2 linked regions of the Homo sapiens genome follow. The protein of the gene in region 2 purifies or fractionates together with the protein of the main gene of each other region. This does not show direct contact. Each region holds a gene or a part of one and is shown on either strand. Other genes may lie near its edges. The genes, in order: MINDY3 and KTI12.

Region 1 (3,823 bases), on a different chromosome or scaffold from region 2:
AAAACATTTGTCAAATAAAAGAAGTTTGATTTCAGACATGATAGATCTAATAGCATAGTCAACTGAGACTAACACGTTACTAGAGCTATGAGACTGGTATTTGGGGAAAAAGAGTAGGACTAGAAGGGGACATATTGGAACTATTAAATAGCTATATAAAGGTAACCTGAGCAAATGAAATATCCATAAAAGGCATACTGGATCCAGGGAAGAAAATTTCTGGACTATAAAAATTTAGAGGAGGAGAGAAAAGAGCAGGAGGTAACAGATAAAGAAGGAAACAAAGCTATCAAAGAAAACAAAACAAAATAAGAATCGTGAGACATTATAGAAAGAAAACTCACACAGTGATTTTTCAAAAAAAAAATCAAGAAATGGAATCAAGGTCAAAAACAGCTTCCAGAAGGGGTTAAGGGGTCAAGTGCTACACGGAAGGATCAAAGGAAACACAATTTGGAAGAAAGGACAGCATTTCACAACCAGAACATTATTGATAATCTCTGTAGTCCAAAAGAGCAGAGGTGAAACTGCTTAAGCAACGAGTGAGTGCTGAGGAAACAGAAATTAACTCATTTTCAACGTAAAAGATTTTTATTCTAAGAATTTAAAAACACCATCAGGAATAAAATTACTCATCACTGCAGGAAAAACAGCACTGAACAACATTAATCAAAGGCAGAAAAATCATCTTCTTGAACACACCTTTGTCAGTAATACAGAATACAGAAAAAGCAATACTCCAAATTTATTTCCCCACATTGAATACTGGTCCAAGACAGCATCTTTTAATTCTGGTAAACTTCTGAACGATCTTTTTCTGGGGGAAAAAAAGAATTAAGTATTGGTATCATGATGAGATTAACTACATTCATAAAAGGGAAAATTTTTAAATTTTCTTATACATTAAAACATATACATACAAACAGGAAAGTTTTGGGACGTTTCTAAATTTTTCATTACAAATTTAGCCACTAAAACCAAAAGCTATTTCTGACAACTATCACTATATATGATATTTATCATTAAGAAAGAACACCTACTTGGCAGGGAACCTCTTCATCTCTTAGGTGAACTGTCTGGCATCAGTAAATTCTTCAATAATATACAGTTATTTAAAGAATAGAGTGGCCTTCTTGTAAGAGGGGGTAAACACAAAGAAAACTTCACTTTTTAAATCCTAGAAATTACTTAACAAATATCTTAATGCCAAAGATAACTTACACATTTGCGGCTTCTTTTAAAAGAAATTAATGTTACATTTTAAACCAAATGCCACCCATAATTCTATCAACAGCCATCTTTACCTTTTACTTTGTAATAAAAAGTTTAAATGCTCTAACAAAAATATCGGTATTCTTAATAAAAGGTATAGAAAACAGATACTGGCAAATAAATAATTCTAATATTTATCCTACTAGAAATCTTCATATTTGTTTAGGTCACAGAAACATTAAGCTAAAATGATTTTTTTTCATTGTAATGATGAAAAAGCTTTTTAATGTTTTTGAAAAGCGTATCTGGGTAGTTAATTAAGGACTCAGCATAGTTTATACATTTACAAACTATTTTAATTTAAAGGCAAATTAATCCTGAAGCAATGGATTTAAAATTTATGTTTAAGTAGCGCATTTCTATGTAAAACTAAGAACCTTTCCACAGTATGAACAGACTTAAAGTGGCAATGTGTCCACAGAGTAAGTATTTTAAATGTTCCAATGTTACTTACTGAATTAATGCATGAAATCGCTCAAAGCCAAGCTCTTCGACAGCCAAGGCAGCTATACATAAAAGACACTTTTCAGCACTACACATGGCAAATAAATGACACAAGATACACACAGCAGGCTGTAAATACTTTCAAGCAATCAAAACTTTCCCTATTTCCTTACTCCCTTAAAATTCTCAGTTTATTTTCAACTTCATTATAACATGAATTTATATTTCAACATCTTTATTATGAATATAACTAAAATCGATATAATACTGAGAATATAGAAGGGTGATTAAATAACATTTCAGTTCAGCTATGCTACGGCAGTTATAAAGTATGAAAAATTACTGATAATCAGTGCCTCACATATCATAATGTGTCCTGCACTTTTAAATAATCTTTCAGATTATATAAATCCAAGTAATATCATCAGAGCTAACCTTCCTTTTTATAATATAAAATCTTTAGGTTTAAGGCTTAATTATTAAACAAACATGTATAAAAAGGCATAACACTTTCAAACTACACAGGTTCAATGACAGCTTTAAGTTTGTTTCCTCATTTATTTGTATAACTGTTAAAAAGTTTTCAGTAACTTATTTAGATTATGTTTATTAATCAAAGGAAATAGAAGAAAGCATTTTAATCAGAGGTAATGTTTATTGAGCACTTTACTAAGTGCCAGGCCCTTTTCTAAATGCCCTACATGTCTTACCTCATTTAATCCTCATATAAACCCTCTTAGCTCCATTTTACAGAAGAGGAACCTGAGGCACACAGAAAAATCCTCTCAAGAGTACATAGGATTAAACAGCAGAGATGAGACTTGAGCACAGATAGTCTTGGCTCCAGGGAGTTATTTATCACAATGAATAACTTCACATATATTTCATAAAGCAAATCTTACTACTATCAAATATAAATTCTCACTGGTGAGTTAAGAAAATTGATTCATTATGAAGTCAAAATTTTAGATTTTTATTTACAATTTAAAATGTCACATTATGCTAGCTTTCCAAAGCCTAGTTGTGAGTGTTTCATATTTCGTTTTAAAATCTTTAGCAGTCCAAATGTATTAAGTTATTTCTTGGTTTATGTGGGAAACAAACTGAAATTGAACCTGAGTATTCACTACTGCGAACAACTGTGCATTACCAACAAGCCAAAACTATACACACCACATAAGCCAATGAAATTAATGTTTGTAGAGAAAGTAATATTAACAAGAGGGGAAAACACTTTACATTAAAACTTTCAGAAAATGAAAATTCTACCTAATCTTTTCCAAATTATACTGCTTGTTCTGCAACATTAGATTATCTAAATAGTTTTACTGGGTATACTACAAGAGTAGACATAAAGATAATAATTTAGAGAAAAGAGGCAAGCAAAATAAAAAGCTTAGCAGGCAGGGATGGTGAAAAAATATAAAACACAAGAAAAAGAACAAAGCTGGGAATAAAGGAAAGAACAGGTAAAATAGATTGTTACACGGAATAAAAATTGTAATATAAATACAGTTCATTTGTCACTAAGGTAAATTCTCAAATTTTCAGTTAACAAAGTATTTCAAATGTATACATTATTTAAAAAATTTAAAATATGGTTTACTTCATGGCAACTTTTAAAATGAGATACAAAGTAAACTGGAAAAATTACTAAAATGTTTTCTGGAGGGTAATTCAATATAATATGCCCATCTAAATTAGTTACTGAAGTACCAAAGGGAATGCATTATAAGGCCCTTTAACCTATAGCAACGTGACGTATCACCACAGAACTGCATAGCATATTTCATAGTATGCACTCAGTATACTGTTAAGATACTAATGGAAAATGTTATATAAAAAGATCTTACTATTTTCTCACATCAATATACAGACTGGCTTTAAGCACAAAATCTTTAAAATACCTTTTCAAAAGATCAACAATTCCTCTTTCAAAATTTTAATATCCTAAATGAACCTATTAAGTGTGCTAACACCCACACAGTAAAACCTGGAGAATATGTTAAAACCAATCTTAGTGACACTTTGGACTAGCATCCTTGTGACTGTTTTCCACTTGTTGTCTTCAAATGTCATTATAAACTCTAAAATATGTTAAGTTCTT
Region 2 (3,816 bases):
GAGTTGCCAGATTGAGCAAATAAAAATAACGGATGGCCAGGCACAGTGGCTCATGCCTTTAACCCCAGCACTTTGGGAAGCCAAGGCCAGTGGATCACCTGGGGTCAGGAGTTTGAGACCAGCCTGGCCAACATAGTGAAACCCCGTCTCTACTAAAAATACAAAAATTAGCCAGATATGGTGGCGCACACCCATAGTCCCAGCTACTTGGGAGGCTGAGACAGGAGAATCGCTTGAACTCAGGAGGTGGAGGTTGCAGGGAGCTGAGATCATACCACTGTGGTCCAGGCTGGGTGACAGAGCGAGGCTCCATCTCAAAAAATAATAATAATAAAATAAAATAAAGGATGCAGGCCAGGCACCTTGGCTCACACACCTGTATTCCCAGTACTTTGGGAGGCAGAGGTGGCACAATTACTTGAGCCCAGGAGTTTGAGACCAGCCTTAGCAACATACAACCTCATCTCTAAAAAAGAAAAAATAAATAATAATAATAAATTAAAGATGCCCAGTTAAATTTGAAGTTTAGATAAGCACCAAATAATTTTAAATATGTCTATGCAATATTTGGGACACACTTAAGCTTAAAAATGTTTTTGGTGTTTATCTGAAATTCAAATGTAACTGGGCATCCTGTATTTTATCTGGCAACCCTACTAAGGAGAAAAATTCCTATTTGTCTTTCAAGTTCTAAGTCAAATGACTATTTCTACATAAAGTCTTCAGTGATTTCTCTGGGTAGTTTGTTTTTCCCTTCTGTTCTTTTATAACCTCACCTGCATCTATCCATTATAGTATTTATTACTCTGATTGTAGGCGCCTGATCCTTCCCATTCAGACCTTTTATCTTTTGTGGGGAAAGCGTTTTATGTTCATCTCTGAATTCCCAACCTTGGAGATGTTGAATGATTGAAATGGTAATTGAATAAACATTTACTGAGAGCCAGTAGGTTTAAGAGGAGGAATGAAGGAGAACCAGCATTTATTAATTGCCTTCTATATGCTAAATATAGTGCTGATTGCTTACAATATTTAATGCCCCTTAGGCCTTATTAATAAAATGGACGGGCAGTCTTTCGCTGCAGGAAGATCACATTCTCCTGAGGCCTATAACATTTGGCATAAATAACTGATGCCATTATAGTCTCTGTATCTCCTTTCTGAGAAAGCTGAACCTGGGCCTAGCTGGCGTAGAACTCCTGTTTCCATAGAAACAAGAGGGTCTGTAAAAGTCAAGGGAGACAGGAAGAGCAGTTTGCACTTCCGGCTTACGTCGGAGACGCGTACAACCCGGAAGTTGGCGCAGCGCGGTTGCCAATGGTCGCTCCCTGAGAGGATGCCGCTCGTGGTGTTTTGCGGGCTGCCGTACAGCGGCAAGAGCCGGCGTGCTGAAGAGTTGCGCGTGGCGCTGGCTGCCGAGGGCCGCGCGGTGTACGTGGTGGACGACGCAGCTGTCCTGGGCGCAGAGGACCCAGCGGTGTACGGCGATTCTGCCCGTGAGAAGGCATTGCGTGGAGCTCTGCGAGCCTCCGTGGAACGGCGCCTGAGTCGCCACGACGTGGTCATCCTGGACTCGCTTAACTACATCAAAGGTTTCCGTTACGAGCTCTACTGCCTGGCACGGGCGGCGCGCACCCCGCTCTGCCTGGTCTACTGCGTACGGCCCGGCGGCCCGATCGCGGGACCTCAGGTGGCGGGCGCGAACGAGAACCCTGGCCGGAACGTCAGTGTGAGTTGGCGGCCACGCGCTGAGGAGGACGGGAGAGCCCAGGCGGCGGGCAGCAGCGTCCTCAGGGAACTGCATACTGCGGACTCTGTAGTAAATGGAAGTGCCCAGGCCGACGTACCCAAGGAACTGGAGCGAGAAGAATCCGGGGCTGCGGAGTCTCCAGCTCTTGTGACTCCGGATTCAGAGAAATCTGCAAAGCATGGGTCCGGTGCCTTTTACTCTCCCGAACTCCTGGAGGCCCTAACGCTGCGCTTTGAGGCTCCCGATTCTCGGAATCGCTGGGACCGGCCTTTATTCACTTTGGTGGGCCTAGAGGAGCCGTTGCCCCTGGCGGGGATCCGCTCTGCCCTGTTTGAGAACCGGGCCCCACCACCCCATCAGTCTACGCAGTCCCAGCCCCTCGCCTCCGGCAGCTTTCTGCACCAGTTGGACCAGGTCACGAGTCAAGTACTGGCCGGATTGATGGAAGCGCAGAAGAGCGCTGTCCCCGGGGACTTGCTCACGCTTCCTGGTACCACAGAGCACTTGCGGTTTACCCGGCCCTTGACCATGGCAGAACTGAGTCGCCTTCGTCGCCAGTTTATTTCGTACACTAAAATGCATCCCAACAATGAGAACTTGCCGCAACTGGCCAACATGTTTCTTCAGTATTTGAGCCAGAGCCTGCACTGACCAGAGGAGGTAGGGGGGAAGCCATGGCTTCTGATCTCCACTCCACTTTATTTCTCTGGGAAAAATAGGCTGCAGGTCTCCAGAGCATATCGATGCAGTACTGTACTAGAGCTGTTGTGACTGATTCACTCAAACTTTCCTGCATACCCCTGTGCCAGGCCTTGGGTTTACAGCATAAGTTCAGACTAAAGAGAATGGAGAACTATTGTGGTGCAACCTGGCAAATCCCTCAGAGGACAGAGCTAAGGTGGACAGGGATTACCTAGATTGGATCCTACTTGGGCTATCACAGAGCATTGACCATTGGCTTCCCTCATCTGAGGCGTGGGAGAGCAGACTGGATAGATGAGAATTGTTTTAAAACAATTGTGAACAGAAACTGAAGATGGTACAGTTCTACATCTGCACCTGCCCTTTTTTCATACCACAAAAGTATTTTTTGAGTACTGTACTGACTTTTTGCTAGTTTCTATTCTGGGACCGAGTTCACAGATAAATCCATTGGTTTGTATCCTTGAGAAACTTTGTTTTTGTGGAAGTAAGAAAGTTATCTACTAGATTATTTCCTCTAATAAAATCTTTTAAAATAGTCTACTGGAATCTCTTTCACTTAATGTTCCCTGTGTAACTTCATGTAACATTTTAGGTATACTTGTCATTGTTCTGCCTTTAAGTGAAGTAGTATTTTGATAGTTCTGAGAGAGTAGATGTTTTGAGCTACTCTACAGTAATTATATTATGACAATTTCCGTAACTGTTTTGCTTCATTCTGCATTTCAAGGCAAATATCATTGTAAGCTTGTCTTTCATTCTTCATTGATTTCATTGAACAAATGGTAGGTACCTACTTTAACAGTGGCTGTGATTTTCAAAGACCAATTAGATACAGTGTTTTTGCTCTTGAGATATGTGGTGAGAAGCCGGGTGTGGTGGCTCATACTTGTAATCCCAGCACTTTGGGAGTCCAAAATCGAGGTCAGGAGTTCGAGACCAGCCTGGCCAACGTGGCAAAACCTCGTCTCTATTAACAGTACAAAAATTAGTTGGGCGTGATGGTGTGCCTGTAATCCCAGCTACTCTGGAGGCTGAGGCACGAGAATCGCTTGAACCTGGGAGGTGGAGGTTGCAGTGAGCTGAGATCGCACCACTGCACTCCAGCCTGGGCAGCAGTGAAACTGGGTCTTGAAAAACAAACAAAAAGAGATATGTGGTGAGAAATACAAGTAAAAGATAGAATTAGGCTGGGTGCGGTGGCTCATGCCTGTAACCCCAGCACTTCAGGAGCCCAAGGCGGGTGGATCACAAGGTCAGGTGTTCAAGACCAGCCTGACCAACATGGTGAAACCCCATCTCTACTAAAAATACAAAAATTAGCCGGGCGTGGTGGCACGTGCCTGTAATCCCAGCTACTCAGG

What was found.
Region 1: the proteins of KTI12 (region 2) and MINDY3 purify together in Homo sapiens (affinity purification with western blotting, with the first as the bait; one study listed by BioGRID). This does not show direct contact.

The regions. Positions count from the first base shown.
Region 1 is NC_000010.11:15,836,502-15,840,324, forward strand, and holds part of MINDY3 (ubiquitin carboxyl-terminal hydrolase MINDY-3), read right to left. Parts: intron 1,779-3,823; coding exon 1,727-1,778; intron 1,133-1,726; exon of another isoform or gene 1,061-1,132; coding exon of another isoform or gene 1,041-1,060; intron 818-1,040; coding exon 703-817; intron 1-702. UniProt on the Homo sapiens protein: Hydrolase that can remove 'Lys-48'-linked conjugated ubiquitin from proteins.
Region 2 is NC_000001.11:52,031,282-52,035,097, reverse strand, and holds KTI12 (protein KTI12 homolog), read left to right. Parts: upstream 1-1,287; 5' UTR 1,288-1,336; coding exon 1,337-2,401; 3' UTR 2,402-2,995; downstream 2,996-3,816.